7 separate regions of the Homo sapiens genome follow, and all the other regions are reported to be linked to region 2. The links are microRNA targets in miRTarBase. Many come from high-throughput screens and were not tested one by one. Region 2 holds a microRNA gene; each other region holds the end of a gene's coding sequence.
What was found. The annotated mature microRNA hsa-miR-494-3p reads UGAAACAUACACGGGAAACCUC and lies in region 2 at 2,682-2,703, opposite strand. An mRNA with a match to its seed (bases 2 to 7 or 8) in the 3' UTR can be bound and repressed. Matches are read on the target gene's strand: a 7mer-m8 pairs with bases 2 to 8, a 7mer-A1 pairs with bases 2 to 7 and ends in A, and an 8mer does both.

Region 1 (4,064 bases), not on the chromosome of region 2:
TCATTGGTTGTTGAATTTCTGCTGGAGTTGGCGAGATGACTGTTAACACTCTAAAATTAGGGGCTTCGCTTTCCCTCGGGCTTATGAGAATGGTTTAAATATAATAGATACTCAGTAAATATTTATTGATTGATACACAGCTTTGGGATCCCAAGTCAGGATCTGCCTCTACTCAGTCTAATAATGCCCTTTGGGGAGAAACATTTTTCATTACAGATTTCTCTTAATTGTAAGAAATCTTTAATTCTGAAAGGTTAAAAAAAAAGTTCAGTTCAGTCGTTCTTTAAATCTTTTGGGTCATAGGAACCTTTGAAAATATGGTCTATGCTCTGCAACCTTGCATCAGGAAAAATCTTCCTTCACAAGACTTTGCCTATAATTCCTAAAGATTTATAGCAATTTCTGAAGGCCAGCTGCAGACATCCCAGGGAAATCTCTGGTCCTTACGCTAAGACCATCCTCTACTGCCCCCTACTGGCTTGTCCTGGCCATGGGTCCCATGAAAAGATGGAGATTATTTCTACGTGACATTTATAAATATTTTTGTTCTCTTCTCCAGGGCTAATTGACTATAATTTTCATTGCTTCCGGAAGGCCATTCATGAAGTTTTTGAGGTGAGAATGAAAGTAGTAAAATCTCGAAAGGTTCAGAATCGGCTGCAGAAGAAAAAGAGAGCCACCCCTAATGGGACCCCTAGAGTGCTGCTGTAGGTGAGGTTTCAGGAATGTCTTTTGAAATCAGACCTTATCCATGAGGCTGCTGCGCCATGTTGCACTAAAGGAAGAGGAAGAAGGAGATTGGGACACATACCATTGATTTGTTGTTAAAAAAAAAAAATTCCTGCAACCCTCTTGATCTTCTCTTTTATAAATAAAGTAAGCACTTTGAAGCAAAAACTTGTATATTAACAGTGATGTGAAATCCATTGTCATTTCATTACACAAATGTAAACTTTTATGGTCTGTAGTCAAAAAAATCCCGTGTGAGAACTGCCAGGAATTGTACATATTTTGCACTTTTTCATGTTTCTCATTGAACTGAACTTTGATAAAACGACTTTTCTAAGCTTTTTTTCTGTACTTGGTGTCAAGGACATGCATACTGTAGTCCATATCTATATGGCAATCAGAAATTAATCAAAAAGTGATGCATTGGTAATGACTTTTTGTAAATTTGGAAATCTTTGCTACCAATTGTTGAGAAAAATCATTTTTCAGTGGAGCTGGAACAGATTGGAGCTACAAGCTCCAGGAGCAATAAGAACTGTCCCCTATTTATAATGGGTGTAAACAGTTTTGTAGAATAATGCTAGCACCAGACTTACCTAAAAATTTCTATAGCAGTGGCTGTGCTTCCCTGCTCAACGGTTTTTATGAAGCTGTTTACCTCAACACACATCTCTATAATCACTTTATACAGAGAGGTTATTTCTTTTTGTTGCATTAGTATTCTTTTGAAACTTTGGGACCAGATTTCCAAAATGGTGCCGAACACTGGAGAGAAGTAAGAATGTCACTGAATTGTAGGGTTTCTGGAGGCTTTTCTGTACCTACCACCCAGGGCTAAAGTAACATCAGAGGCCTAAAGTTGTTCCAAAAGTATGTGATTGGCAACTGCAGACTAAAAAACATAGATACAATTCTGGACTTTTGGCCCTGTGCGATGGTCTGGTGTGCTGCATTTAAAATGCTTATTCAGGACCAGTTCTTTATTGCTCCATGACCATAGTGAATAGAACAAATCGCAGAACCCCACCATGGAGCTCAATCCTGTTAGTCACTTTTGTCACCTCCACATCTCCTTCTCACTGGTGATAACATGCCTCATGTACTCCACTTGTTCCCACCTTATGATTAAGCCAAGCTCAGCCTGCCACCAGCATGCTCTGCAAGGCTGAAGAGTCATCCTGAAGACCCCTAAAGGTCAGTGGGAAAAGGATGGCTGGAGAGACATTACAATTAGCTGTGTAATTGTTTCTGTGAAATTATTTCACTTATGTTTACTTTAGACTAACAGGAAATTAAGAGTCCTAAATCTACCCCTATGCCAAATCATTCCAAGTAGATAATTTTACGTGCATCTCAAGGGTTAGCACCCTAAGGCATGCTTGTGGGGCATTAGAAAATGAGATTTTTTTTTTTTTAAAGCAGAGCCTCCTAAGAACATCAAAGTTGGTCCTAGCAAAATATATAAAGTCCCTAAAGCAACTTATACTTGAAACTTTTTTTTTTTTTTTTTTTAGAGGGGGGCCTCATTCTGTTGCTTGTGCTGGAATACATTGGTACAATCATAGCTCACTGTTACCTCTTGGGCTCAAGGGATCCTTCCACCTCAGCCTCCCTAGTAGCTAGAACTACAGGTGTGCACAACCACGCCCGGCTAATTCTTAAATTTTGTTTTTGTAGAGACAGGATCTCACTGTGTTGCCCAAGATGGTCTCAAACTCCTGGCCCCAAGCAATCCTCCTGCCTTGGCCTCCTCAAATGCTGAGATTACAGGCCTGAGCTACTGTGCCCAGCCTAAACTTTCCCACTTCTCTCTGTGGCTTCTTTCCAACCTCTCTCCTTCCTCTCCCCAAGTCCTGTTTCTTTGAAGCTGGTAACTGAATTTAAGATGATATCTGGTTGGTGTTTAAGGTTTGAGCCTCCCAAGGTTCTGTGCATTTTGAAAGGAGATTTCTAAAAATAATTAAGGTGCCCTAACTCCTTTCCTCATGATTCCTACTCCGAAACCTGGATGGTTAGGAGCCCAGGGCTCCCTGATTTCCAGAGCTATATCCTGTTGGACCTTTGCCAACAGACCTGACACTTAGGGGTTATTGTTATAAATCTAATTCTCTAATATTTTTTACATGTTGTTTCACTTTGAATAAGCAAATGAAGAATCAGTTTTCTAATATGACTTTATCCTCAAGCTAGAGACACTAGCCTATTTGGTAAATCACACATTACTTAGGTATATTTATTACTATAACCAGGTTGGAGCTTCCATGTTTAAGCTGGGTATATGATGGGTTTTTGTTAAAATGTGCCTTAAAAAGCCTATTACTTCAAGAGCAAATGATTCTTTGGGGGAAAGGCAAAAATAATTCTATGACATAGGGCCCAAGTTCATGGTAGTAAGTGTACTCTTTGATTAATCACACGCTAATATAGATTACTGCCTCTAACTTTGTAAGTGTGGCAATGACTTCTTAATTAAAGAAAGATGCAGGAGTTATGTCTAAGCGTTCAGTTTTTCAAATCTGTGTTATTGGAAATGTCTTCAAGTCATTTTGCATTGTATTTTTGATATGAGAGGCAGCTTATTGCGATGTGTATGGCCATGTTTCATTCTCAAATTTAATTCTATAAATACAAATCCTAAATACATGGCTACAGCAACTGCACTGGAACATTTTTGCTTGGTTTTAGGGATTGAGAACTTGCCTTGCAGGTTTCCTTCCTCAAAAGGAGCAGGGCAGTCCTTTCCCTGTTGAGTCAATTAGAATTTTTACATAGAGGTGAGACTGTGAATTATTTTGGTTATTTTCAGTGATGTAGATTAGTGTGAATGACCAGGGTGGAATGTTTTTGAAGGAATATAAAGCAAAAACTGGTTGACATTCACAAACTGTTCTTTTGTGAACATATTTTGGACCCTTAAATATGACTAAAATCACAGCAATATTGTTACATACGGGTTATATGCCAACTCTGTTTGAAATATACTCTGGAAAAACAGCTGAATTGTCTTGGTTATTAAAGTATGGTATGTATTCAACTTGTACAGACTGGATGTAATTTGTAATCAGGTATAGTCCATGTTTTACTTTAAGCAGTACATCACTTAATAACCATTGTTAAGCCATTGCTTTCAAGAATGTTAACTGCCAATTTAAAAGCATGTGTCCTAGGTTCATGCTTTGGTAAAGCTCTCATTTCAAGTGTATTCATAGCTAAGCTTTCTGGGAGCAGAATTGTCTCTTTGGTGAAAAGGAAGTACAGCCTTTCCTGTTTCTGAGGTTGCTTACCATACATGTATGTCACTGTTTCATTGGCCCTGTTACATCCATTTGGTAAAA
Region 2 (4,067 bases):
CAAGCATCTCCTTGCCTATCACTGGCCCAGTGGGGTCATGGGCCTATTCCGGAAGCAATTGCAGTGGCAAAGGAGAAGAGATCAAGAGATTCGCTTAAGCCTGGGCTGGTGGAGGAAGTGGGGCAGGGTCAATGCAATCAAAGCACACGGCGGGAAGACGGGAGCTTTCATAAAAAAAAAAAAAAAAAAAAAAAACAAGGAGAAATTTAGGAAGGAGAAAAGACATGGGGTAGGGAGGTCCTGATCAGCGTCCACTACAGGGGCCCATGTGCCTTCCCTGAAGTTGCACCCAAACCAAGACGTCTTCAAGGCAGAATAGGATACTGAAAAAGAAGTGCACCGCGAATGTTTCGTCACAAATAAAGCGAAAAAAACACGGGCAACTTCTCATTAAGTACCGCACGTCAGCACCGTTGACAACACTGCTTCTCCGCGGCTGGTATCACTCCTGCGGGCTTCCTGAGAGCACATGGGTCCTGATGCGCACCGGGCAACCGGTGACAAAGATATGGCCGTGCATACAACCCCCTCAAGACCTGGGAGACATCTAACAGGTCTGCCCCCTCTGCACAGGTGGCATTGTGTCCTGGAGCTGCTTGTGAGCACGATGTGTTCAATTTCTCAATAACAAAAAGTCTCCTCCAGTAGCACAGAATATGACAATGGCACAGAAACAGTGATTTTGCATCCTAAAAGTCCTCCTGAGGATACATGAGGAGGGACCAGGAGAGTCACAATAACTCCCCAGATAAGATGGATGAGATCTACCACCCACCCTTTAGGGACAAACAGCAAAGTGTCTGCCCTGATGGAGCCTCTGAGCCAAGGGAGTCGTCATAGAATGGGTAGCGCAAGGGATTTTTTAACATTTGCCTCAAACAGATGGAATGACCAGGGGTCCTGGCACAGCGTCACCACTGTCGATCAGCCTGAGCCGGAGAAGAGCCCCCGGGGCAGACCGGAAGCTGCGGGTTAGGGAGGGATGAATGAGCAATGAATAAAACCCAAGTTCTCAGGTGGTCCACGTGGACAACTGACTTGGTGGTGGCAAATCCTCACCGGTTCCTGCATTCACACCTCACCACAACCCCCTCCCGGGTGGAGTGGGCCTCCCCGCCCCTTGCCTTGGGTTCGGCCGTGTAATTGTTCTGGTCAATGATCTGTGGGTAGAAATATAGCAGTTCCCAGCCTTGGCCTTAAGGAGTTTCTGCGTTTCTAATTACTTTCTTGTGCCTCTGCCGTAGCCATGGGAGCATACCAAGGCCGGGGTGAGAGCTGTGGGTCCCAACTTCAGCCCTCAGGGCAGGCCTTCTCTCCACAAGCCATCCTAGGTATGGGAGGGAGACTGAGGATGAACGGACCAAGACACACACCCGAAATAGAATGTCTGCTCTCAGACAAGATGTCCACTCCCATACCTCTCCATGGACCTGACGCCAACAGCCCTCCCCTGAAGCGCGTGTCACAGCCGGGACACATCTTCCGCAGTCTGACACTGAGGGCATCCAGGGCATCTGGGGCCTCGTAAGGCAAGCAGAGCTGAACAACAGACAGAGATGAGCAACGGCAACAAAGCCCTTTCCCCAAGCATGGACTGAACGCTGCCCACGAAGCGGCTGGATTCTGAGTGGTCCCAACACAGGAAGGGCTCATCTCAATCACGCTGCCAGCTCCTCAGTCCCCCATCCACGACTCACCAGGAGTGCTGCTGACACCAGTGGCCCTGCCGGAATCTAGCTTCATGTCCAGGAAGTCCTCCTATGGAAAAGAGATGGGCCACGTAGCATTCATCAAACACATGGCAAGCTTTGTCAGACAGCCTCTCTTCATGTAGCACAGAATAAAGTGGCCCTCACTACCACAGCTGTCCCAACGCCTGCCCTGTCCTGCACACACACAACACTCCTCAAACCCTTCCGAGGATAAACCACACCCCTGTACCAGGTCACACACACACCTCCTGCAGTCAGCATGTGGTGTGGGGTGGGACTTTCCCTGATGGGGCACTGAAGCCCAGGCCTCTGCAATCCTGGCATTGTCTGTGGCCAGACTATCAGCCCTCCTGGGCAGGATTTGAAACCAAAAGAGAGATTATTCACTGATGATTGCTTATATTGATTTTAACGAGGTAGGAGGAGGGGGCCCCGAAGGGAAACCCCTCCTAAAATCCTGCAGAGTCCCACGGGCCCCACGTCCTCCCACATCTTCTCCGAAGTTGCCATGTGCACCAAGATGTCATCCCACAGATGGACCGGGCGCTGGTGGATAGTCAAACGGGTGACCTACATCGTAAATGAAGTGCACGTCACCGGTCTACCATCCCCTCAGCTACCCTGGAGAGCAGATGGCACCATCGTCCCTTCAATGACGTTGCTAGCGTGTCCAGAAGGCCATCCAAGCAAGATCTCACACTGAAGAGGCGCCACCCACCGTGAATCAACAAATAGACAAACACCACAATGAGCAACCTCCTTCAACCACAGAAGCACAGGCCCTTCTCCAAACTCAGCTTCCCCTCCTAGGGGCCCTCCATGGCTGGGGCCTGAGAGCCACACCCCCACGACGCATGGCACGCTGTCAGCCTCGCTTGCGCCTACCGAGAGTGGAGCCGGCAACGTCCCTCCCTGAAGGCTGCATCAGGAACAGGAAGTGCCTCCAGGGTGGGATTTGATACTAAAAAAGAGGTTTCCCGTGTATGTTTCATCATAAATAAAGAGAAGACAACACGGACAACCTCTCCTTCGAGTATCGAAGATTAGCACTGATCAAAAAACAAACAAAAAAAATCAAAACAGAACTGCCGAATCTTCGCCGATGTTGGTGTCACCTCCAGGAAGATTCCCCGAATCTACATGGCACTGGGTAGACCAGACGTCAGATGGCTTCTATTTGCGTGTCCCAGGTTGCTTTTGGGAAGTCAGCCAAAAGCTCTTCAAGCCTTCACAATGAAAAGAGGTTGCCCGGGAAACATTTTCCGCCAATACAGAGAACACTTTAGGTACAACCTCTTTCCAGGTATTGGAGCTTTCCTGACGGTGGAACCAGGGTTTCCTTGTGGAAGTCCAGGCCACGGGAAGTGCCCCTAGTCATAATGGTTTGCATCCCAAAGTCAGTGCGTCAAGAGAGCTCATGAGTAAATCTCGAATTCTGTGGTCAAGAAGCAGGTGGCTGGGTCTGCAGTTAGCCGGTGCCCAGGCCCCTGTGTGGCACTGGCCATGGGTCCAAGCAGCCTTCCAGGCAAGGTGTGATTCCAAAAACAGATACATGGCACCGAGGAAGCTGTAAGCAAAGTGAGTGCCTGCTACACACGGCTAGGGAGGGAGGGTCGGGGAAGCCAGGAGCACCGCCAGGCCACCTTCCTCCAGGTCAAATCCCACTTAATGCCTTCTGCTGCCTTCAATCCAATTCAGCAGAATCAAGAAATAAAAACGAATCTCATTTCCTGATGTGAGCTCCCCAAATGTTTTAGCCAATTCTGGGCCGGATTTTCTGTTTGCTATAAAACTCCTTTGACAATAATTGTTTTCATGGTGGGGGGAGTACTGTTATCTCCAGACTCTTTTGCATCTCAACAGAGAGTTAGATCAATCCTGACAGGGCTGGGGAGAATCAGGGGTCAGAAAACTTCAGGTTTCCTCTTACAAAGTTGTAAAATTGTGCCCTCTTTTCCCCCGAAGGTGGACCCCGGAGCAGAGGTCTGAGAAGAAAATCCCAGGGCCAGGCTGCGGCTCTGCACCCTTGCCACCTGTCCTTTGACCCCTCCGTAGCCAGCAGAGCACCCAATCTACATGGACCCAGCAGCCGCCTACCCTGGATACCCCGGAGGCAACAGCATACTGCCTGCTGTCACATGGCCTTGACACACTCTCTCTGCCCTCTCTTTATGAGGGCTCTTTTCGGCTGGAAGGAACGGTGTTTGGGTATCAGCTAATAGGAAGGATTGGTGGCGGAGGTCATTGGTGCTACCTCATATGTTCTCTCTGGTTATAAAAAGCAGGGTTGACATGGAAATACCTGGCCCTTCTCCAGAACCTGAGGCCCTCCTCCCTCACAGTCCCATCCCCAAA
Region 3 (4,067 bases), not on the chromosome of region 2:
CCTTCATTCAGCGCTCACATCTCATTGGACATCATAGAGTACACACGGGAGTAAAACCCTATAAATGTAAAGAATGTGGGAAAGACTTCAGTGGGCGCACAGGTCTTATTCAGCATCAGAGAATCCACACAGGTGAAAAACCCTATGAATGTGATGAGTGTGGAAGGCCTTTCCGAGTAAGTTCAGCTCTTATTAGACATCAAAGAATTCATACCGCAAATAAACTCTACTAATATAGCAGTAATATCAAAAGTTCTTTGGACACTCAGGCCTAACTAGTTATCAAAGAATCTATTTTAGAAACCTTGAGTTTCCTCAATGTGGTCAAAGCTTCAGTCATCATTAAACTTCTCTGGACCAAAGAATCTACCTGAGTAAAATATCCTTTTATTTCAAATTAGTTCAGTTTTGAGGGGGAATCAAGAATTCTTTCAGAAAGCCTTGTCCACTGACAACACTGCTCACCTGCAGCCCAAGATCAATGGTTCCTGGATGAAAGACAGTGAATTAATTCTGTCTCTGCTCCAGGTCCTTTTTAGTTGACCATTCAGTGTCTGACTTTAGGCAAGACAAGACATACACATTTTTCTCTGCCTTCATTTCCCCTTCTGTAAAGTACAGATGATAATAGAGGCTTACCAGGTATGTTTCGACAAGTTAAAACTGATGAAAACTACTTTTGAGATTAAGATATAAAACAATGCTAATTATTTGTTTTCCACCATTACTCATATAATAGCCTCAACATCCCTTTTTTATCTTAAAATGGGGAGTATGATTATTTTTTGGAAATTTTTGTTTGCCAATGATAAAGAATAAGCCATCAGAAGACAGGAGGCCAGCCTGGTCAACACAGCGAGACACCACCTCTACAGAAACTTAAGAAAAATTAGCTAGGCATGGTGGCACACACCTGTAGTTCCACCCAACTATTTAGGAGGCTGAGGTGGGAAGATCACTTGAACCCAGGAGTTCAAGGCTATCGTGAGATGTGATCGCACCACTGCACCCCAGCCTAGGCAAGAGCAAGACCTTATCTCAAAAAGAAGAAAAAAAGGCTGAGGAAAACAAAATGGAGGAGGAGGCAGTCTGTGATCATTAGGAGCTGCTGGGGAGAGGAAGGAATCTATAACTAGATATAACTTCTTTTCTGGATTTCAGGTTATTTTAAACTGAGGGAGATAGGAAGGGGTTGGTCTAACTTGGTCCAGTTTGTCCAGATTGGTGGCCAGTACCCACATTAACTCAAATAAAATGGAAAATTCAGTTCCTCACATTTCAAGTGCTCATAGCTACATGTTAGTGGCCACTATATTGGACAGCACAGATACACACCTTTTTTTTTTTTTTTCTTTTTTTTGCCCAGGCTGGAGTGATCCTCTGTTCACTGCAACCTCCACCTCCCGGGTTCAAGCGATTCTCCTGCCTCAGCCTCCTGAGTAGCTGAGATTACAGGCATGCATCACCATGCCTGGCTAATTTTTGTACTTTTATCAGGATTTTGCCATGTCAGCCAGGCTGGTCTCAAACTCAAGTGATCCGCCCGCCTCATCCTCTCAAAGTGCTGGGATTAAAGGTGTGAGCCACCACACCTGGCCACATCTCTAATTTGAGAATCTTATAGCATGATAGGAATTGTGGCCATAGGCCTTGCACATTCAAATTCACACCACCAATCAAACTGCCAAGAGCAGAGCTCTGGTTCTTTACTTAGTTCTAGGAATAAGGATCACCAAAACAATCAGGAAAGAAGTGATCTAATCTCTTCAAATCTCTTGTTTTCAATTAAGATATTTCAATTGAAGATATTTATTAAGAACAACTGCTTTATCATTGTGTTTAAGATCAGGAAAACTATAAGAATCATTTTTATGTCTATAACTGTAGGAAGATGAATCTTTTAAAAATAATAATAAAGAAAGAAAGAGTCTTGCTCCATTGTCCAGGCCGGAGTACAGTGGCACAATCATACCTCACTGCAGCCTTGAACTCCTGGCTGCAGCCTTGAACTCCTGGGCTCCAGCAATCCTCCCACCTCAGCCTTCCAAATAGCTGGGACTACAAGTGCACACCACCATATCTGGATTTTTTTTTTTTTTTTTGAGATAGGGTCTGACTATGTTACTCAGGCTAGTATCGAATTCCTGGCCTCAAACAATCCTCCCATCCTCCTCCCAAAGTGCTGGGATTACAGGCATGAGCCACCATGCCCAGCCAAGAAAATGAATCTTAAGGTATTTCTCATAATGCCCTAAAGATAAACTGAGCTTTTATGTCCCTTTAACATAATGGTCCTTTAAAAAAATGTATATTTACTTTGAGTATCTTACATCAACACATCTTTTAAATGTCAGGTTTCACACGAATACTTGTTTTATAACTTACTATATTTACCTGAGTAATATTTCAAAGTATTTGAAACACTCAAAGAAAGGATTTTCTTTAATGGTCATGAAGAGAAAAGTAAAGTAAGAAATATTTAGTATTAGTATTAGAAACATCCTTATTTTAAAAATAAAGTTAGGTGCTTTCTGAATAATGGCTTTTCCCCTTTTACCTTTAGTCTTTCTGAGAAACACTACAATGCTTAGAAACTGCTCAGAGTCTTTAAAGGGGAAACTCATGTTTCTGATCCTTGAATTTAGGGAGGCTTCTGCAATGGTAAGAAAGATGATTTTGGCTATCCTAAGATTAGGTTTCCTAAAATTGGTAAACACATGACAGACTGATTTTCCTTTATCCTCTGTATGAGCAGTCCCCAACCTTTCTGGAACCAGGGACTGGTCTCGTGAAAGACAATTTTTCCAAGGATAGGGAAGGGGGTATTGTTTCATTTATCATTAGATTCTCATAAGGAAAGCGCAACCTAGATCCCTCGCATGTGCAGTTCACGATAGGGTTTGCGATCCTGTGAGAATCTAATCCCACTGCTCATCTGACAGGAGGTAGAGCTCAGCTTTGCTTGCTCACTGGCCCCTCACCTCCTGCTTTCCTGGCCACGGTAGGGACTTGGGGACTCCTGCTATATATGACAGAACATTCCGTTCAGCTAGTAGTTTTGAATACCTATTATGTACAAAGAACTGTTCTAGTCTTAGAGTCCTGCACCCTTAAAGGCTGAGTGAAGAGTAGTCTGGAGCACTATAACCATTGTACCCTTTTTAGGTTTTATGTTGATTCCAAATTGCCACCACAGTGCCCACCACAGGTTTGGTCTAATGTTAACCAGAAGGGTAATGGTAAGAGTCAGGGAGGGACATAAAGACATGGGGCCAGAGACAGCCTAGAATGATGTAGGTAAGAGAAGAACAGTCAGTGGGATCTAGGATAACTGCAGGCAAAAGGCAAAAGAGGCATGAGGTCAAAGAAAATCTAAGTAGTTGCTGGTACTCTGGAGATGCAGGCAATGTCTTAGTAAGCATGTAGAAACCCACAGAAGAAACTGGTGGGAGTGCAACTAGTTGGAAAGAACACAGCTCAATCACAGCCACACTTCTTGGAAGAGGAGGTGTAATATGTTGGACACTATCAGTTCTAGCAGAGAGCTATCCTGAATGGACAGCACCTGGTCTGAAAAAAAAAAATACAAAACAAAACAAAAAAAAAACCTGAACATGGAAAGCAGTTCCTCAGAGAGTTGTGTCAAAAGCAAATGTGTTATTGTTCTTCATATCTTTTTGGAGGGTTTTTTTTTTCTGAGGGAGGAGGCAAGAATTTATATTTTGTAGTTTCGTGGACTAACAAGACAGTAATTACAACAGACAGCTATAGGGAATATGGGGGACAGCTCTCTCAGACACAGATGGGTTGGTAGTGAACTGGCAATTCTAAGTAAGGGTGTCAACAGGTATGAATGGAAGAAATAGATGAGTGTTGAGGGAGGGTCTATAGGAGGTATCAGTGGGTATTGATGAAGAGGGGGAAAATGAGAAAGGGATGAAAAGATAATAATTTGATGAAAAGAAAAGGATGAAAAGAGGAACAACTATAAAACAAGGGATGGAGATAGGAAAGATAGACAAGTGATTCTAATATATTGGCATCAATTGTTGGAGACAGTGGATCAT
Region 4 (4,067 bases), not on the chromosome of region 2:
CTGGGTATGATACGCTCCCTGAATTCACTAATTTCCATCCTCACCTCGATTACATTCTGACTCTTGAAAACACCCACCATCACCATGTGCCTTCTTAAAATGTGGGCGGAAAGGGAGAATATGTGGGCAGATGAAAGTAGAGAGAAGGGGCCAGGCACGGTGGCTCACGCCTGTAATCCCAGCACTTTGGGAGGCTGAGGTGGGCAGATCACCTGAGGTCAGGAGTTCAAGACCAGCCTGGCCAACATGGTGAAACCCAATCTCTACTAAACATACAAAAATTAGCTGGGTGGGGAGTGATAGTGAGAAAAACCATTCAAAGTTTACCTCTTTCTTTCCCACAGATCTGGGCATGCTCAGCATGAAAATTCCCAAGGAGGAAGATGTCCTGAAGTCATAGATGTCTTCAAATCCCTGTTCCTATCCTTCTTCTCCAGCTCCTCCTGCTCCCTCTGAAACCTTTTCTAGGTACCCTATGCTGAGACTAAGATCCTGAAGTTAAATACCCAGGTCTCATGAAGACATTGTAAAGCATTTGAATTATTCTAAAAAATTTCTGGAGTTTCTTAGGTTTTATTGATTCATCCTTGAAATCAGTATAATGTGCTATTAATGGAACCAATAGTAATTCGAGGACTAGTTGGGAGATTCTGGGGTAATCAGGGAATATTCCTGCAACACATTTAAAGGAATTGTGTTCTTTTGGAATCATCCCAATTATAACACGAGCTATTGCATAATACAAATAACCCTCTTAAGTCTGAGAGTCTGTGTCTTTATTTGAAAAGATTCTTCAAATTGCGTACTTACTCCTCCATATTCTTTCAACCCACATGAGTCTCCTCGAGAAGTGAGGAGAGGCAGTTTGGAGCAGAATGGAGAGAATAAAATGTTTCTTGTCAAACACTCCATTTTTTCCCTTTTAATTAGTCTGGGAATTTTTTTAGGGGTAGCAGAATCCAGGATGATGGGGTCAGGTGTGGGACTGGGAAATCCAGGATGACAGAATCAGGTGAGGGACTGGGGAAAATATAACCTATTGGAGGCAATCCATTTTGGATTATTGTTTTGCTGAAAGTTTTACTTTCATTTTGGGTTTGAGGAGTCACAGGAAAAAGAAACCACAGTGTTACACTGAGGCAGGGGAATCGCTTGAACCCGGGAGGCAGAGGTTGCAGCGAGCCGAGATTGTGCCATTGCACTCCAGCCTGGGCAACAAAGTGAGACTCAAAGTAATTAATGACCAAAATGAGTGACTGAGACACTGTCAGTCTCCATCCATCGAGGTTTATGAAATCGGCTGTGGGGCACGTCCAGGGAAAGGTGAGCCACAGACACCTCTGTGGCTGTTTTTCTGAAGTTTTCAGGATATTTACTATTTATACATTTCCTTAGACGGGGGCAGGCATAGAGGCAGAGGGGTGGGTAGGTGGTGAGCTGAATGGTTAAATTCCTATCAGTCTTTAGTTAGTGCCCAGTAAATCTACATTTAAAAAAAATATATGTTTCTATTTTTTATTTATTTATTTATTTTAATTTTTTTTTTTTTTTTGAGACGGAGTCTCGCTCTGTCGCCCAGGCTGGAATGCAGTGGCGTGATATCGGCTCACTGCAAGCTCCGCCTCTCGGGTTCACACCATTCTCCTGTCTCAGCCTCCCGAGTAGCTGGGACTACAGGCACCCGACAACATGCCTGGCTAATTTTTTGTATTTTTAGTAGAGACGGGGTCTCACCGTGTTAGCCAGGGTGGCCTCGATCTCCTGACCTCGTGATCTGCCTGCCTCGGCCTCCCAAAGTGCTGGGATTACAGGCATGAGCCACTGTGCCCGGCCTATGTTTTTATTTTTATTTTTTTGGAGACAGAGTCTTACCCTGTCACCCAGGCTGGAGTACAGTGGCGCAATCTCAGCTCACTGCAACCTCTGCCTCCCGGGTTCAAGCAATTCTCTTGCCTCAGCCTCCTGAGTAGCTGGGATTACAGGCGCCTTCCACCATGGCCGGTGAATTTTTGTATTTTTAGTAGAGACAGGGTTTCACCACTTTGGCCAGGCTGGTCTTGAACTTCCGACCTCAAGTGATCCGCCCGCCTTGGGCTCCCAAAGTGCAACGTTTTACATAAGATAAAGTGCATGTTTGAAGGCAAAAAAGGGCGTAAAGGGAGTAAAGGAAGCACCAATTACTTAGACATCTTTGGGTAGGTGGAGGAATGACTGAGCTCATCTTATCTTTGTTCCACGCCTCAGAAGATAAGCTAGTAATGGACATTGTCAGTGTGGAATAAAACAGACCTGAGTTTTAGGAGCTAGACTTACATTGTAGACCTGAAGTTACAAAGGGTGAGTTCTTGTTTATGGGAAGTCAGCAAAGAATTTCCTTATGAATGATTTGCGGGGGCATTCGTGGATGCCCGGGGCCTCTTCCCTTTCCGTGGGGATCTGGCTGATGCCAAATGCCAGCAACTGCTGTCCAATTGGAAGAGGGCGCTGCCTGACTCAGCCACCAGGCTGACCTCTCCTTTTGCATAAGGAGTTTGGGGAATCCTGAGGTTTTTCTTCGCATAATGAATAAGTATTAATATTGTTAATACTTATTCATTAATATTGTAATTAATTATAATTATTACAATAAATTACAATAAATAATTAATAAGTAATTAATATTAATTAATTACTATTCATGGCATGGTGGCTCACGCCTGTAATCCCAGCAGTTTGGGAGGTCGAGGCGGGAGGATCACTTGAGGTCAGGAGTTCGAGACCAGCCTGGCCAACATGGTGAAACCCCATCTCTACTAAAAATACAAAATTTGCTGGGTGTGGTGTCAGGTGCCTGTAATCCCAGCTACTCGGAGGCTTGAGACGTGAAAATTGCTTGAACCCAGGAGGCAGAGGCTACAGTGAGCTGAGATTGTGCCACTGCACCCCATCCAGCCTGGGTGATAGAACGAGACTCAGACTAAAAAAATAATAATAATAAAAATAATAATTATACAGAGTCAAATGTCGGGGATTCAAGGAGGCAGAAAGCAGATGAGTTCTCGCCCTGCTGGAGACTCACGTCCCTGGGAGAAGCAATCACTTAAAGTGATTAAGTTAATACGAGAGGCTGCAGTGAGATTTTTTTTTAGACAGGGTCTCACTCTATTGCCTGGGCTGGAGTGCAGTTGGGAGATCTTGGCTCACTGCAGCCTTGACCTCCTGGGTTCAAGTGATTCTCCCACCTGAGCCTGCTGAGTAGCTGGGACTACAGACATGCACCGCCATACCCAGCTAATTTTTGTGTTTTCAGTAAAGATGGGGTTTTGCCATGTTGCCCAGGCTGGTTTCTAACTCCTGGGCTCAAGTGATCCGCCTGCCTGGGCCTCCCAAAGTCCCGGGATTATAGGTGTGAGCCACCACACCCAGCTTTGCAGTGAGGTTTTGAAGCAGTGTTATGTGATGGGATTCTTTTTTCTTATCAAAAAATAATTTACTGGGCAAGTACGGTGATTCACGCTTGTAATCCCAGCACTTTGGGAGGCCAAGGTGGGCAGATCACTTGAAGTCGGGAGTTCAAGACCAGCCTGGCCAACATGGTGAAACCCCATCTCTATCAAAAAAATTTCTACTACATCTCTACTACAAAAATTGCCAGGCGCGGTGGCTCACACCTGTAATCCCAGCACTTTGGGAGGCCGAGGCATGTGGATCACCTGAGGTCAGGAGTTCGAGACCAGCCTGGCCAACATGGTGAAATCCTATCTCTACTGAAAATACAAAACTCAGCCTGCTACAGTGGCAGGCGCCTGTAATCCCAGCTACTCGAGAGGCTGAGGCAGGAGAATCGCTTGGACCCGGGAGGCAGAGGTTGCTATGAGCCGAGATCTGACACTGCACTCCGGCCTGGGTGACAAAGCTAGACTCTGTCTCAAAAATAAATAAATAAATAAATAAATAAATAAATAAATAAATAAATTATTGCCTTCTAATATTTTTTTAGCAGCCCAAGTCCAATGATTGCATTAAAAAAATTTGTTGCATCTATGCCATGAATACAATATTTAGGCAGTCATGTCAGCTTTTCTTTT
Region 5 (4,067 bases), not on the chromosome of region 2:
CCAAAGACATCTCTAAAAGATTGAGTGTCATTGACTTTCTCTTCTTCCTCTGCAGACACATTTGCCAGCAAAGTGGCAGCCACCCAGGACCAGTATGCAGACGCCTCCATAGGTAACGTCACGGGCAGCAACGCGGTGAATGTCTTCCTGGGAATCGGTGTGGCCTGGTCCATCGCTGCCATCTACCACGCAGCCAATGGGGAACAGTTCAAAGTGTCCCCTGGCACACTAGCTTTCTCTGTCACTCTCTTCACCATTTTTGCTTTCATCAATGTGGGGGTGCTGCTGTATCGGCGGAGGCCAGAAATCGGAGGTGAGCTGGGTGGGCCCCGGACTGCCAAGCTCCTCACATCCTGCCTCTTTGTGCTCCTATGGCTCTTGTACATTTTCTTCTCCTCCCTGGAGGCCTACTGCCACATAAAAGGCTTCTAAAGGAACTATCAGATATAGTAAATTTATATATATACATATATATACATAAAAATTATGTATAATGGACAGAGGAAACTGACATTTGTCATGTTCACTTACCTGCTGATGGAATCCAGCTTCAAGAGCATACTCTGTACTAGGGCCGAAGTAAAAAACCATCACCTCCCATTCCCAGGGGCATCATCATGTTCAACAAGGCATGGAGGCAGGGCCATCTTTGCAGCTCAGTCTAGAAGGGCTGCACTCTCTCCAGGTTGATAAATCCTTAAGGCTTTGATTTGTTTTGTTTTTGGTTTTGTTTTCAGTGGAGCTGGGGAGGTAGTTAATGTTTGGCTTTATTTTTGTTATTTTGTTTTGTTTTGTTTTTTTGGGAGAGTCAGGGTTGTTGCTTTTCTTTGTGGAAAGTGAAACCATCCAAATGTAAATGGGTTTTGGTAAAAATTTAAATCATTAGTATTCCCCCTCACCTCCCCCAATCACTTTAAAACTTATTTTGGATTAAGAAAAAATCTGGGCATGGAAGAAGAAAGAAGCATGTCTTCATCGTATTACCAAAGTTCATGCTTATCTCCGGAATGTGAGTGGAGGTGAAGCTGCCTCCAAGAAGAAGCATAAAAGTGGAATGGAGCCAGGAAATCCGATGGTTCTAGAAATAGTCTGATATTTAAACATGTGATACCTGGCAGTCTCGTTTAACAGGTACAAGGAAAACGTGCCTAGATTCCCAGGAACGTGCAAAATCCTTTCTTTCTTATCTCTTTAGCTCTGGACTGTGATTGGCAAGGTCCTTCTTCCAGCATTCAGCCCAGCTAAGCCCCCAGGTGCCCCATCCCAACCCTGTTCCTCCTGTCCACCTGCCATCCCCTATGCAAACAGTAAGAATAACCCCATTCAAAAAGCACATCATCGTTTTCCATTTGCATTAACATGTGTCTCAGTCCCATGTTGCCGTTGCTTGGGATTGTCTGTCAGTTTTATTTTCAAAGGCATCCATGGCTTGCACAATCCTGTTCCAGTCATGACTGAACATTTGCTCCTTCTTCATGTGCCGTTCGGAAATGTTGTTGTGATACCTGTTACACAGTGCATGGTGAAAAACAAATAAAACAAAACAAAGAGTATCTGTATATAGTAGAGTATAGTACATACTGTTCTCCCATTTGGCAATGTTGATTGGACATTGAAGACATAAGTGAGTTTTCTTTTCACCTGAGTTGTTACTTTTGTGCTGTTATTGAGTTTGATTAATTACTAGGGATAAAAGGAGAAAATGGATTATTGTTCACGGTTCTGCACATTCATTTCTAAGAAGCAATAACTGTCATGTGGGGAGAAGTTAAAGCTATTGAGAGGATAGCAGGCAAACTACAAAGATCTTCATGGAAAATTAGCCATGTGGAACACATCAGAGGCCTCTAAAAATCACCCATTAATTCAGGAAGGCCAAGGAGAAAGGCCTTATAGAGACGTTGATATGTTGGATGTGCCTAGGCTTTCAGAGCCACCCTTTCCACAACACCCCTCCCTGCAAAGTATTTATTTCACATCTGCACTGTCTGGCACAGATGGTAGATAGTGCTGGTTTGTTCATTTTATTTTTTTACTTAAAAGGCTATTTTGAGCCCTGTTTCTTTCACTGTCCAGTCTAGTCCTCTTTGATTATATCAGTAGTTGCTGAGTAAGAAAGAAGCCAGGGTGACCAACGGGCCTTTAAAAGTGTTGTCTCCTCTACTTATGCTGAAAGAGAAGGCAATTAAATAAGACTAGTACCTCCCAGGAGGATTGGACTGGGATATTTTTAACCCTTTAAAAAGAATAGCTGTTTCTATGTTAAAATACCAAAGAACATGGATAAACCCAACATTCCAAAGTAGTGAGTCCACTAATGAGAAAAATAATAGAATGACTTTGGTCACCTCTCGGAGACTTCTGTGTCTATAAGGAATCCCAGGCTGGAGACATTCCTAGCCCTCTGTATTGATTCAAAAATACTTAATAAATTAAAGCTGTTGAGACTTATTTTTTCTTCTGTCACTCAGTAACCATGATCCTTCCTCATTTAATAAACATTTGGTGACTGAATGAGTAATTAAATGCTGGTTACCCACTTAATGTGCCAGGTAGTATGATACTTTCTGGGGACTAAGCCATGAACAAAACAGTCTAGATCCCTGCCCTCAGAAGGGTTACAGTTTATGTGATTACTATTTTCATGAGTAAAAGTGAAGAAAGCCATATGGAAAGATTTTTATCTTGCAAGAAAAAACAATTATGAAACTCTTTTAACATAAACACACTGAAACTGTATCAAAGCAATTGTCCAAATTGTATTTATACCCAAGAATTTCTTTAACTAAGAGAGCATAAGGCATATGTTTGGAAAACCACCCTCTTTATCTTTGACCGACTTGCAGATAAATATATCTCTCCATTTTAAACCAAGAAGGGCAATCATGTTGGTGATCCAGATCACTGAGAAAGCCCAGTGTATCCCATCTTTTATCTTTGTTGGCAATGGAACTTTTCTATGGCCCACACTTTACAATTCTTTGTCATTCTAACCCATCCTTCCCATCCTTATTTTTTTTTTTTTTGAGAATTGCTAAATGGAAAGCTAGCCTAGAAGCACCAAGTAAATATATTCAAGGAATATAAGTTGTTTAAACATTAGAAAAATTTTTGCACTCATTTTTTAGCTGTATTAGGAATGTCAATAATCCTGTAGCAAATTTTCACAGAGAACTTTAAGAAATTCTTGCATTGGTCGATTTCAATTTGAAAGCTTTTTGGTTTGTTTGCTTTTTAAATTTTCATGTTCTAGGAAACTATGATTCTGGTTGTTCAGGATTGTTATTATTATAGTTGTGTAAAATTATTTTATTTTGTGTGTATTGTGCACAGCTTGGGGGGGGGGCGGGAAATGCACTAATTGTGCTCTTCCTTATAAATGGTACATATTACTGACACAGACAAATAAAGTTTCTAATTGTTTCTGATTTAATCACTAGTGATACAGCATATTCTGTATGAAATGTTTTCTCCTTTCTCATTGTCATCTACTTCATTTTTTGTTTTCATGTTTTGAAGAAATAAAAACCAAAATGGTATTATTGTGCAACTGGTATCATCATCCAAAGAAAAAAACAGACACCAAGTATTCAAACTCTTGCAAACGTCAACCCTTCGGTCATGCAATGTTCTCTTTTTAATGTCCCAGGAGAACACAGTGTCAGAATATTTGTCTGTCCTACAGTGCTGAGATATATGTTGGACATTCCTCCATTTCACTGATTTTTTTTACGTTGCTTAGTATGACTCTATCTACATCCTTTCCTGCATCCAGGATCATAAGCCCATAAACAGTTACATGTCAGACAACTTTTTAGCATGCAGAGTATTACATCAAATCAGTCGATCCCAAAAAATTCCAATCCCAAAATTGATGGTAGTACAGTTTCTTCCCAAGGGGATGTTTAAGTAAATTTCTCTTTTAGTTTCATATGTTATATTCCTCTTGTAGAACTTCTGCCTCGCATTAACGATTTCTGTCTATATCTTATTAACTTCATATATCATATAGTCAAAACAGTATAGAAGGAAGTGATGTCAGAAATGGAATAAGCATTTGTGGGGAA
Region 6 (4,067 bases), not on the chromosome of region 2:
GCTGCGGGCTGGGAGGAGTCGCCGCCTGACCCGCGTCCGCTCCGTCTCCAGCGGGAACGAGGACAAGGAGCGCCGCGCGGGCTCCCAGTCCCCGGCCCGGGCCCCCTCCACGAGCCCGCCGTCGTCCCGGGTCCCGTTTCCCGAGCGCCTGGAGGCCGAGGGCACCGTGGCTCTGGGCCGCGCCGGCGACGCCCTGCGCCTGGCCGCCGAGTACTGTCCGGGAACCGGGCGGCTCCGCCTCCGGCTGCTCCGCGCCGAGAGCCCGGCCGGAGGCGCCCCCGGGCCCCGAGCCGTCAGCTGTCGCCTCAGCCTCGTCCTGCGGCCGCCGGGCACCGCGCTTCGGCAATGCAGCACTGTGGTGGGGCGCAGCCGCAAGGCCTCCTTTGACCAGGACTTCTGCTTCGACGGCCTCTCGGAGGACGAAGTGCGCCGCCTGGCCGTTCGAGTCAAGGCCCGGGACGAGGGCCGCGGCCGGGAGCGGGGCCGCCTGCTGGGCCAGGGTGAGCTGTCCCTGGGCGCCCTCCTGCTGCTCTGAGGGCCCAGCCCTCCCCGGGGCGCTCTGCCCGGGGGACTCCGGACACTGACAGCCGCGTGGTACAAAATAAACGTGTATTTGTTGTTCTTATCAGTCCCGTTTCAGTACAACACTGGCAGAGATGATTCTAGATTAACTATCCCAGTAAAAGATATGATATTTTCCATAGATACCTCCAGAATTTTTTTCAGCAAATGGAATGGTTCTACAGTGTTTCCCAATATAGACAGCCATTTGCATACCATATGTACCACACACGCCTAGGAAATAATGAATCACATGAAGTGTTAGAACTAGAAAGTGTCTTGGCGATCTGTTTGCTCCAATCACCTCATTTTAAAATTGGTGCTTTCCACAACATGCATGGAGACCATCTTGGAGCATTTACTTTTGAAGCATTTTGTTTAAGACCCCGGATAAGAAAATGAGGGCAAAAGAGGTGAAGTGACTTGTCCAAGATCAACAGTGAATTATTAGTTGGAACGCCAGCCTGATACTCCTAGCTATATCTCACTGGAAAAGCATTGGAGAAAATGAAACCATTTTAATATTCTAAGCTTAAATAATAGTTATAATAGGCTAGGTGTGGCGGCTCACGCCTGTAATCCTGGCACTTTGGGAGGCCGAGGCGGGCAGATGGCTTGAGCCCAGGAATTTGAGACCAGGCTGGGCAACATGGGAAGACCGCGTCTCCATAAAAAATACAAAATTTAGCCGGACGTGGTGGCACGCACCTGTAGTTCCAGCTACTCTGGGGCTGAGGCGCAAGGATCACTTGAGCCTGGGAGGTCAAGGCTGCAGTGAGCCGAGATCGTGCCACTGCACTCCAACCTGGGCAACCGGAGTGAGACCCTGTCTGCAAATAATAATAATAATAATAAATAGTTTTACAAGCGTTAATTTATGTTTTAACCCCCAAAAGGAGGCACTGCTATGCCCATTTTACAGATGAGGATATTGAGGCACAGAATAAAGAGCAGAGCCAGAATTTGAACCTAGACAATCAGCATTTCACTCATTACTCTTATGTAGGTAATACCACAGTGTCTAAAGGGCTCGCTATTAAAGTTGCGAGTATTGTGCAACTTCTCTCTGAAACTGTTGACACTGAAGTTCGTGTCTACTTGTATTCCTCATCCTGCTTTTGGTGAAAAAACAAATTGCTTGAAATGAATAATTTATTATCTCATGCTAATAACTTCAGGCATTGAGATGAGCTGATGGGTCTAAAGCTCTGAGGAGGAAGCTAACCGGCCTCAGAATCATAGAAATGGGTGCCAGCCTTGTTGTAACCAGGTGAGTTTATCTGCTGGAACAGGCAGTGGAGAGTGTACAGATAGCATGGTTTTACCTCTGGCTTCTGATAATAATTCCAGATTTAACAATCCTGTTTTAGAGGACGATTTTCCCTCATCCCTTGAATTCACTGCCAGCAGGGCATTTTTTTCTTTTTTTTATGCAAATAGGAAAATGCATCCTAAATGAGGGTTTAAAAAATTGAAAATATTTAAATATACAGGATGGTGTTAAATATGACTCCATTATCAATCTGGATTCAGAAATGGTTTCTGCTTTATTTTATTTCATTTTATCTTTTAGAAACAAGGCGTCACTCTGTCACCCAGGCTGGAGTGCAGTGGTGTGATCATAGCTCACTGCAGCCTCTACCTCCTGACACAAGCTGTCATCCCGCTTTGGCTTCTCAAAGTGCTAGGATTATAGGCGTGAGCCACCATGCCCGACCAGTTTCTGCTTTTATTAAAATTGTTCACAGTTTTATACATTCATGTTCATTAAAAATGCTATTTAGAAAAGAGTTTGATAAAATAAATATTATACAAAATTCGAAGAAAAAAGAAAAGAGTTTCTGTTTCAGTCACAAATTAGGGTTATTGTGATGTGTATTTATGATGACCATTGAACAAATGTGAAGAATACTGTGAATTCTATGACTTTATCAAAATCAGCCACATCCAGGAGCTTGCAGTTGTTGACCAAATGAATGATGACATAGAGTAGTTCAGATCTATCATGTGCTCTTCTATCTAATCAGTCAATATTTCCTTGGCCCTCAAGCCAACATTCATTTTTTATGTATAACCTTCTTCATGATTTTGAAATTTTGATAGGGTAACTGCTAATGAGTTCACAAATGTAGCACTTTAAAAGGAAAATAAATGGAGAGTGAAAACAACTTGGCTACGTATAATTGTGGGTTTTAATTTTTCTGTTTTTAAAATAAAAAATGGCATTGATAGTTTCAATAGCCCAAGTTTTTATTCCAGAAGATGTTGCAATAACTGTTGTCACTAGATTATATACATGTCATTTTATTAAGTAGATTTTTTTTCGTGAAAGTAAATCAGTGCATTTGAGGGATCTAAATTTTTTATGAAATAGTGGTGGTGATTTCCAAACAGAATCACCATTAATGGCAAGTTATGGTTGATCAAATAACCTGAGTCTAATCAAAAAGGTTTTAAAGGGGCTGAGATAGAATCATAAATGATAAAATCATAAAATTTTAGAGTTGAAAAGAACTTTAATAATCATTTTGTGCCGGGTGCGGTGGCTCATGCCTGTAATCCCAGCACTTTGGGAGGCCGAGGCAGGCCGATCACAAGGTCAAGAGTTTGAGACCAGCCTGACCAACATAGTGAAACCCTGTCTCTACTAAAAATGCAAAAAAATTAGCCGGGTGTGGTGGTGCACACCTGTAATCCCAGCTACTCGGGAGGCTGAAGCAGGAGAATCACTTGAACCCAGGAGGTGGAGGTTGCAGTGAGCCAAGATCGCGCCACTGCACCCCAGCCTGGACAACAAAGCGAAACTGTCTCAATAAATAAATAAACAAATAAATAAGTAAATATTTAAAAATAATCATTTTGTGCAAATCTATATCATAGAAGTGGACCAGAGAAGCAAATTTTAGATTGCCCCAAATCACACAGTCAGTAAAAAGAGCTGAGACTAGAACCAATTTGATTTTCATTTTGCTCTTCAATCTAATGGCTCTTTGACTACTAATTCCAGGAAAAGAGAAACACTGTACATCACTAATCTAATCTAATGTTTTTGCATTCAAGAAATCTTACTTGCAATACAAATGTTTGGGATAACATTAGCCTTTCTGGGGCAAATTTAAATTTCATTTACACTTTACTGCCCTCTAGTGGATCCCTCAAGTGTTTTGTCAATTGGCTCTACCCCTATTATTAGATATTAGACCATTTCAACTAAAGGTCAATCTAATGCCAGGACCCTATTTTCTTGAAGACCTTTGCTAATATTAGATTGTAGTGAAGATTCACATTGCAAAGTAACTTAATACACCTATCTGAGAGCACAAGGTGGCAAAAATATTTTAGATTTAAATAAAGAGGGGAAAACTTTTTCCTTTAATAATGAAGTTGGGAGTGTGTGGCAATAGCATGTTGGTTACAGAAAACTGCTTTTAATAGTTCTCATGTTTCTTCTCATCAAGCTTTAGTACTCACATCTTCTCCATAAATGATATGGCATGATCTTGCTT
Region 7 (4,067 bases), not on the chromosome of region 2:
AAAGAGAGAGAGAGAGAAGGGAAAAGTCTGAGAATGAAGGCTGTCCAGGCAGGAGATACGTCTGGAGAGGGACTTGGGTCAGGTCAGAGACCCCCTTGTGTGTCAGGATTAAAGCTGGACTTTATTTTAGAGTCAAAAGTGAACCGCTGAGGGGTTCTAACGTAGCCACAAAGTGCTCAGATCTGTGCTTTAGAGCTGAAGACTGGCACAGTGTGGAAAATGAACCAGCACAGGGAGAGGCTGGGGTAGGGAGACCCGCCGGGAAATTGTGGTATCTGATTGGAGAGGATGAGAGAGTCCTCTAAGGAAGCCTTGGTGAGCCTGTGCAGAAGCTGGACCCAACGCATTTGGGTCTGAGGGATTTCGATGCACTCAATACATGCATGTTAAAGGCATAAAGATGGAAGGAGAGCAGTAGGAAAGGGCGAGTGTTAGTACCTCCCTGTCTTTCTGGGTCCTCCGCTCTTCCTTCCCTTATCAGTCACATTCCTCCACCCATCTTTCACAGACTGGACTCCCCATGGCATAACTGAGTTCAGATCCCCATTCTGCCACTCACTGGCTGGCTGCCCCAAGCATGTCCCTCCCTCTCAGAGCTTGTTTCCTTCTCTGGATGATAAAGTGTTCAGACCCACTCCACAGAGCTGTTGTAAGGACTAACAGAGCTCAGGGCCTGCCACAGTGTTGGTCCCTGTCTTCCTTCCCAGGCCCTTAATTTCAGGATCCTCCCTGGTGTCACCCACAGAATCCCTCCTTAGATCTGTGCTTAAGATGTGATTCTATGGGGATTTCTACCCCATGTTCCTGAAGTCTGATCACTTTACTCAGACTATCAATAGGGAAGAAATAAAGGTTCATTTAAGGTCCAGATCTGTGTATAAACAGATCATTCAACAGAGAAGAAAACATTTTTTTAAGTAGTCGTAATCAGAAAAAAATGAGAGGGATTCAGTAGGATGAAAAAGGAGAACAAGCAGGCAATTAGCAGAGGAAGAACAGATTTTGATCCTTGCAAACCTACCCCCAGGGTCTCACTGTGTCCCCCAGGCTGGAGTGCGGTAGAGTGATCTCAGCTCATGGCAGCCTTGACCTCCCCAGCATAAGCCATCCTCCCACCTCAGTCTCCCAAGTAGCTGGGACTACAGGCATGTGCCACCACACTCTGCTAATGTTTGACTTTTTGTAGAAACTGGGTTTTGCCATGTTGCCCAGCCTGGTCTTGAGCTCCTGGGCTTAAGTGATCCACCCTCCTCAGCCTCCCTCCCTCAGTGCTCACAGGCATGAGCCACCGCGCCTGTCTCCGTACCCCCAAATTCTTTCAAGCACAGTTCAACCCTTATTCCCTTGGCCCATGGAATGGAGCAGCCTCATGTACAGAGTGGCTTCATATACCTCATCTCAGATACTTCTATGAAATTATAAAAAGAATAATAATTTCTTGAATATAAATTACAAAAGATTTGTAATTGAATTTAATTACAAATTACTTTTAAAAGTAAAAATCCTACAAAAGTCACCACCTAACTGATGATGTCTTGCTACTTGACCAAGGGGTACTGACCCCTGCACTGTTACAGGCAGAATTGGAAATGGCTCATGCCGAGTCCCAGCCAGGTGGGCAAAAGATACGGGCTCTGAAATGACAGTGGGCTGAGCCCAGTCCAATCCACACAACAGCCCAACACAAGTGGGGCTGTCACGAGCTTAAAAAGTCACTGATCATAGCAGCCTCGTTAGAACCTATCCCTTCTCTTGACTCTGGCAGGTACCAGGTGAATATCAAGCTCTCCCTGTACTTCTGCCTGTGCCATGGAAGCTTACTCGCCTGTCCTGTGGAATTCCCAAAAGCCAGCTCCTCCCCAGAGCTCTCCACAACACTTCCCCTTTTCCCCTGACCCACACAGCACTTGAAGACAGGATGTCATATTTGACTTTTGCTTTTATTTTATAAGAATATAACATGCTGAAACAGGAAAATGGGGATTGCAAACATCATTCATATCTAGGAAACCAGCTCCATTTGTCACAATAAATAAATATTTAAACAGTGAGGAGTTCCTGACAGGCTCCAAGAGGTTCCCAGCACATTCAGAGGTAGAGTCTGGTAGAGAAAGGGAGACAGTCAGGCTGAAACCCCTGCTGAGATTCTCCAGTAGAGGCAAACTGAAATTACAATAATAAATAACAACAGCACCAACAATAACAAAAACAATGTTATGACAATCACAGAAAACCAATGATACAATACACTTAAATAATCTCCTGGAGGAGCTCATGGTACAGAGAGAACAGTGTTGATTATCCTGGGCCACAAAGGGGCTGCCCTGGGTAGTTCACTTCCCCAGCCTGGGCTCTGCCGCAGGAGTTGCCATCAGGAAATGTTTGTTCAGTGATGCCCTGAGGTGACAGGCAGGTTCTGATTATCCCCAGTCCTGCCCTTCGAAGCAGCCTCTCCCCCCAGCTTCTGCACTCTAAGGGTGCCATGGTCCTGGGCCACCTCTGCCCACTCCAGTGTTCATCTCACGTCTGCAGGAAAGAAACACAAGGCTCCCCTTCTATCTCGGGGCATCTCTTTTTGCCTGTTCTCATACCACAAAAAACACTGGCTGGATTTCAGCAGGACTCTCAGGGACCGCCAAGAGACTTATTTCCTAGGATCCTTTTCTGCCTTGTTCCACACTGCGGGGCATGAGAGCTGGAAAAGCCACTCCCCGAGGCCTCCACACTTTGTTCTCCTGGGCCCTGCCTCCAAGAGACAGCACAGAACTCAGAGAGGGCACATCCAGGAAGAGGCCCCAGGGCGGGCCTGCTCACAGGTGGACCCTGCTGCAACGCAGGGTCAGGGGCCACCTGCAGGGGGCCACCCAGAGCACTGAGCTGGATTCAAGTGAGCCTCCTTTCAGGGCTCTCCACTGACTTGGAAAGGGCTCACAGGCCAGTGTTTGAGGTATAAATATCTCGCATGGGGCAAGAGTCACATCAGCTTGCTGGCCTTGACATGACTGCAAGGCTGGACAGACACACAGGAGTGTTACGAGGTACAAGCTAAGGGACTCTGGGCTAGCCCAGAGGCCAGTGAGGAGGGCCAAAGGGGAAGACTCCACATCCAGGGTCCCTTCCGTGCCCAGAACAGTCTGGGAATTAGGAAAACAGGATGCAATCAGAGTCAACTGAGCAACAGGCAAAACAGCTGATCTGGATGTCTTTCCTCCTCTCATTTTCATGGTTCCCTTTATCCACATGTTTCCTAAACCACACTAGAACACTTCCTTCTCCGGTGAGAACGAGAGCCAGTGCTAACCCCCATACCACCTTTTTGCCCCACAGAGAGCCCCACCAACCCTCATCATTAGCCCTTATTCACAGGTCCTGGAAGTGGGCGGCTCCTCTCCAGCATGAGTCCCACAGTATCTGAAGGAGAGACTGCTGCTTCCCAAACAGGCTGCTGGAGCGCATTTTTTTTTTTTTTTTTTTTTTTTTTGTCCTCTTGCACTTGCTTTGCAGAACCTGCCTCCCACACAGGGGCAGCCACCTCGGGGATGGGTGACTCAACCTCTCTTCCCGGCTGGCTTCCTCACTGCCGTGGAGACTCAGGTGTGTGAGGGCTCGTCCAGGCTGCAGCTGGACAGAGTGGCAGAGGCGGCTGAGGCTTGGGCAGCCAGGTCCCGGTAAGCAGGCGACTTCAGGAAGCGTGGGTAGGAGTCCTTCTCCATCAGGGTACGTGTCTTCCCCTGAGCCGCATCAAAGCATGTGGCTGTGGCAGTCTGCAGGTTCATCCTCGTCAGCTCGTGGGTCTCATGGTCAATGTTGACCTGCGGGAAGGAGGACACACACAGGGTGAGTTGGGGAAGAGGGTGGGCATGGCTGAGGGAGGGCCAACGGCAGGCTGGGCATTGGAAAGAGCATCGGATGCTGCATCAGGAAGTGGGGGCTCCTGAGTTGATCACTAGCTTTTCAGCTCTGGGCTTGTACCCACATCTGATCCAGTGTCTGTCCTCCAATCTCTCAGAATTAACATGAGGATCTATCAAGAATGTATACAAACGCAATCCCCTTTCACCCTTTCT

Region 1: miRTarBase lists RRAGD as a target of hsa-miR-494-3p. Seed matches in the 3' UTR shown: 7mer-m8 at 1,024-1,030, 7mer-A1 at 2,857-2,863, 8mer at 3,326-3,333 and 7mer-A1 at 4,030-4,036.
Region 3: the mRNA of ZSCAN16 is a reported target of hsa-miR-494-3p. The part of its 3' UTR that is shown has no 7-base or 8-base seed match.
Region 4: the mRNA of GALP is a reported target of hsa-miR-494-3p. Seed matches in the 3' UTR shown: 7mer-m8 at 890-896.
Region 5: miRTarBase lists SLC8A1 as a target of hsa-miR-494-3p. The part of its 3' UTR that is shown has no 7-base or 8-base seed match.
Region 6: miRTarBase lists C2CD4A as a target of hsa-miR-494-3p. Seed matches in the 3' UTR shown: 7mer-A1 at 2,404-2,410.
Region 7: the mRNA of RGS16 is a reported target of hsa-miR-494-3p. Seed matches in the 3' UTR shown: 7mer-A1 at 1,965-1,971.

What each region holds. Positions count from the first base shown.
Region 1 is chr6:89,364,703-89,368,766 of GRCh38, reverse strand. RRAGD (Ras related GTP binding D) reads left to right here. Exons shown (of 7, transcript NM_021244.5): 7 at 560-4,064. The coding sequence ends at 711. Among named protein-coding and RNA genes, the nearest start is that of UBE2J1, 14 kb to the right of the region's middle. RefSeq lists an enhancer at 501-730.
Region 2 is chr14:101,028,317-101,032,383 of GRCh38, reverse strand. It overlaps MIR494 (microRNA 494), which reads right to left and starts at 2,750; the gene lies at 2,670-2,750. LOC124903407 (mucin-2-like) reads right to left here. Exons shown (of 5, transcript XM_047432049.1): 5 at 1-4,067. MIR1193 (microRNA 1193) reads right to left here and starts at 2,332; the gene lies at 2,255-2,332. MIR543 (microRNA 543) reads right to left here and starts at 397; the gene lies at 320-397.
Region 3 is chr6:28,129,718-28,133,784 of GRCh38, forward strand. It overlaps ZSCAN16 (zinc finger and SCAN domain containing 16), which reads left to right. Exons shown (of 4, transcript NM_025231.3): 4 at 1-365. The coding sequence ends at 233. The region is part of intron 1 of ZSCAN16-AS1 (ZSCAN16 antisense RNA 1); the gene reads right to left. Among named protein-coding and RNA genes, the nearest start is that of ZSCAN16-AS1, 5.6 kb to the right of the region's middle.
Region 4 is chr19:56,184,871-56,188,937 of GRCh38, forward strand. GALP (galanin like peptide) reads left to right here. Exons shown (of 6, transcript NM_033106.4): 6 at 345-905. The coding sequence ends at 400. Among named protein-coding and RNA genes, the nearest start is that of ZSCAN5B, 11 kb to the right of the region's middle. RefSeq lists a cis regulatory region at 2,031-2,629.
Region 5 is chr2:40,111,618-40,115,684 of GRCh38, reverse strand. SLC8A1 (solute carrier family 8 member A1) reads left to right here. Exons shown (of 11, transcript NM_021097.5): 11 at 56-4,067. The coding sequence ends at 432. The region is part of intron 3 of SLC8A1-AS1 (SLC8A1 antisense RNA 1); the gene reads right to left. Among named protein-coding and RNA genes, the nearest start is that of SLC8A1-AS1, 200 kb to the right of the region's middle.
Region 6 is chr15:62,068,189-62,072,255 of GRCh38, forward strand. It overlaps C2CD4A (C2 calcium dependent domain containing 4A), which reads left to right. Exons shown (of 2, transcript NM_207322.3): 2 at 1-2,729. The coding sequence ends at 535. Among named protein-coding and RNA genes, the nearest start is that of C2CD4A, 3.2 kb to the left of the region's middle. RefSeq lists silencers at 1-78, 129-618.
Region 7 is chr1:182,596,702-182,600,768 of GRCh38, forward strand. RGS16 (regulator of G protein signaling 16) reads right to left here. Exons shown (of 5, transcript NM_002928.4): 5 at 1,922-3,812. The coding sequence ends at 3,591. Among named protein-coding and RNA genes, the nearest start is that of RGS16, 5.7 kb to the right of the region's middle.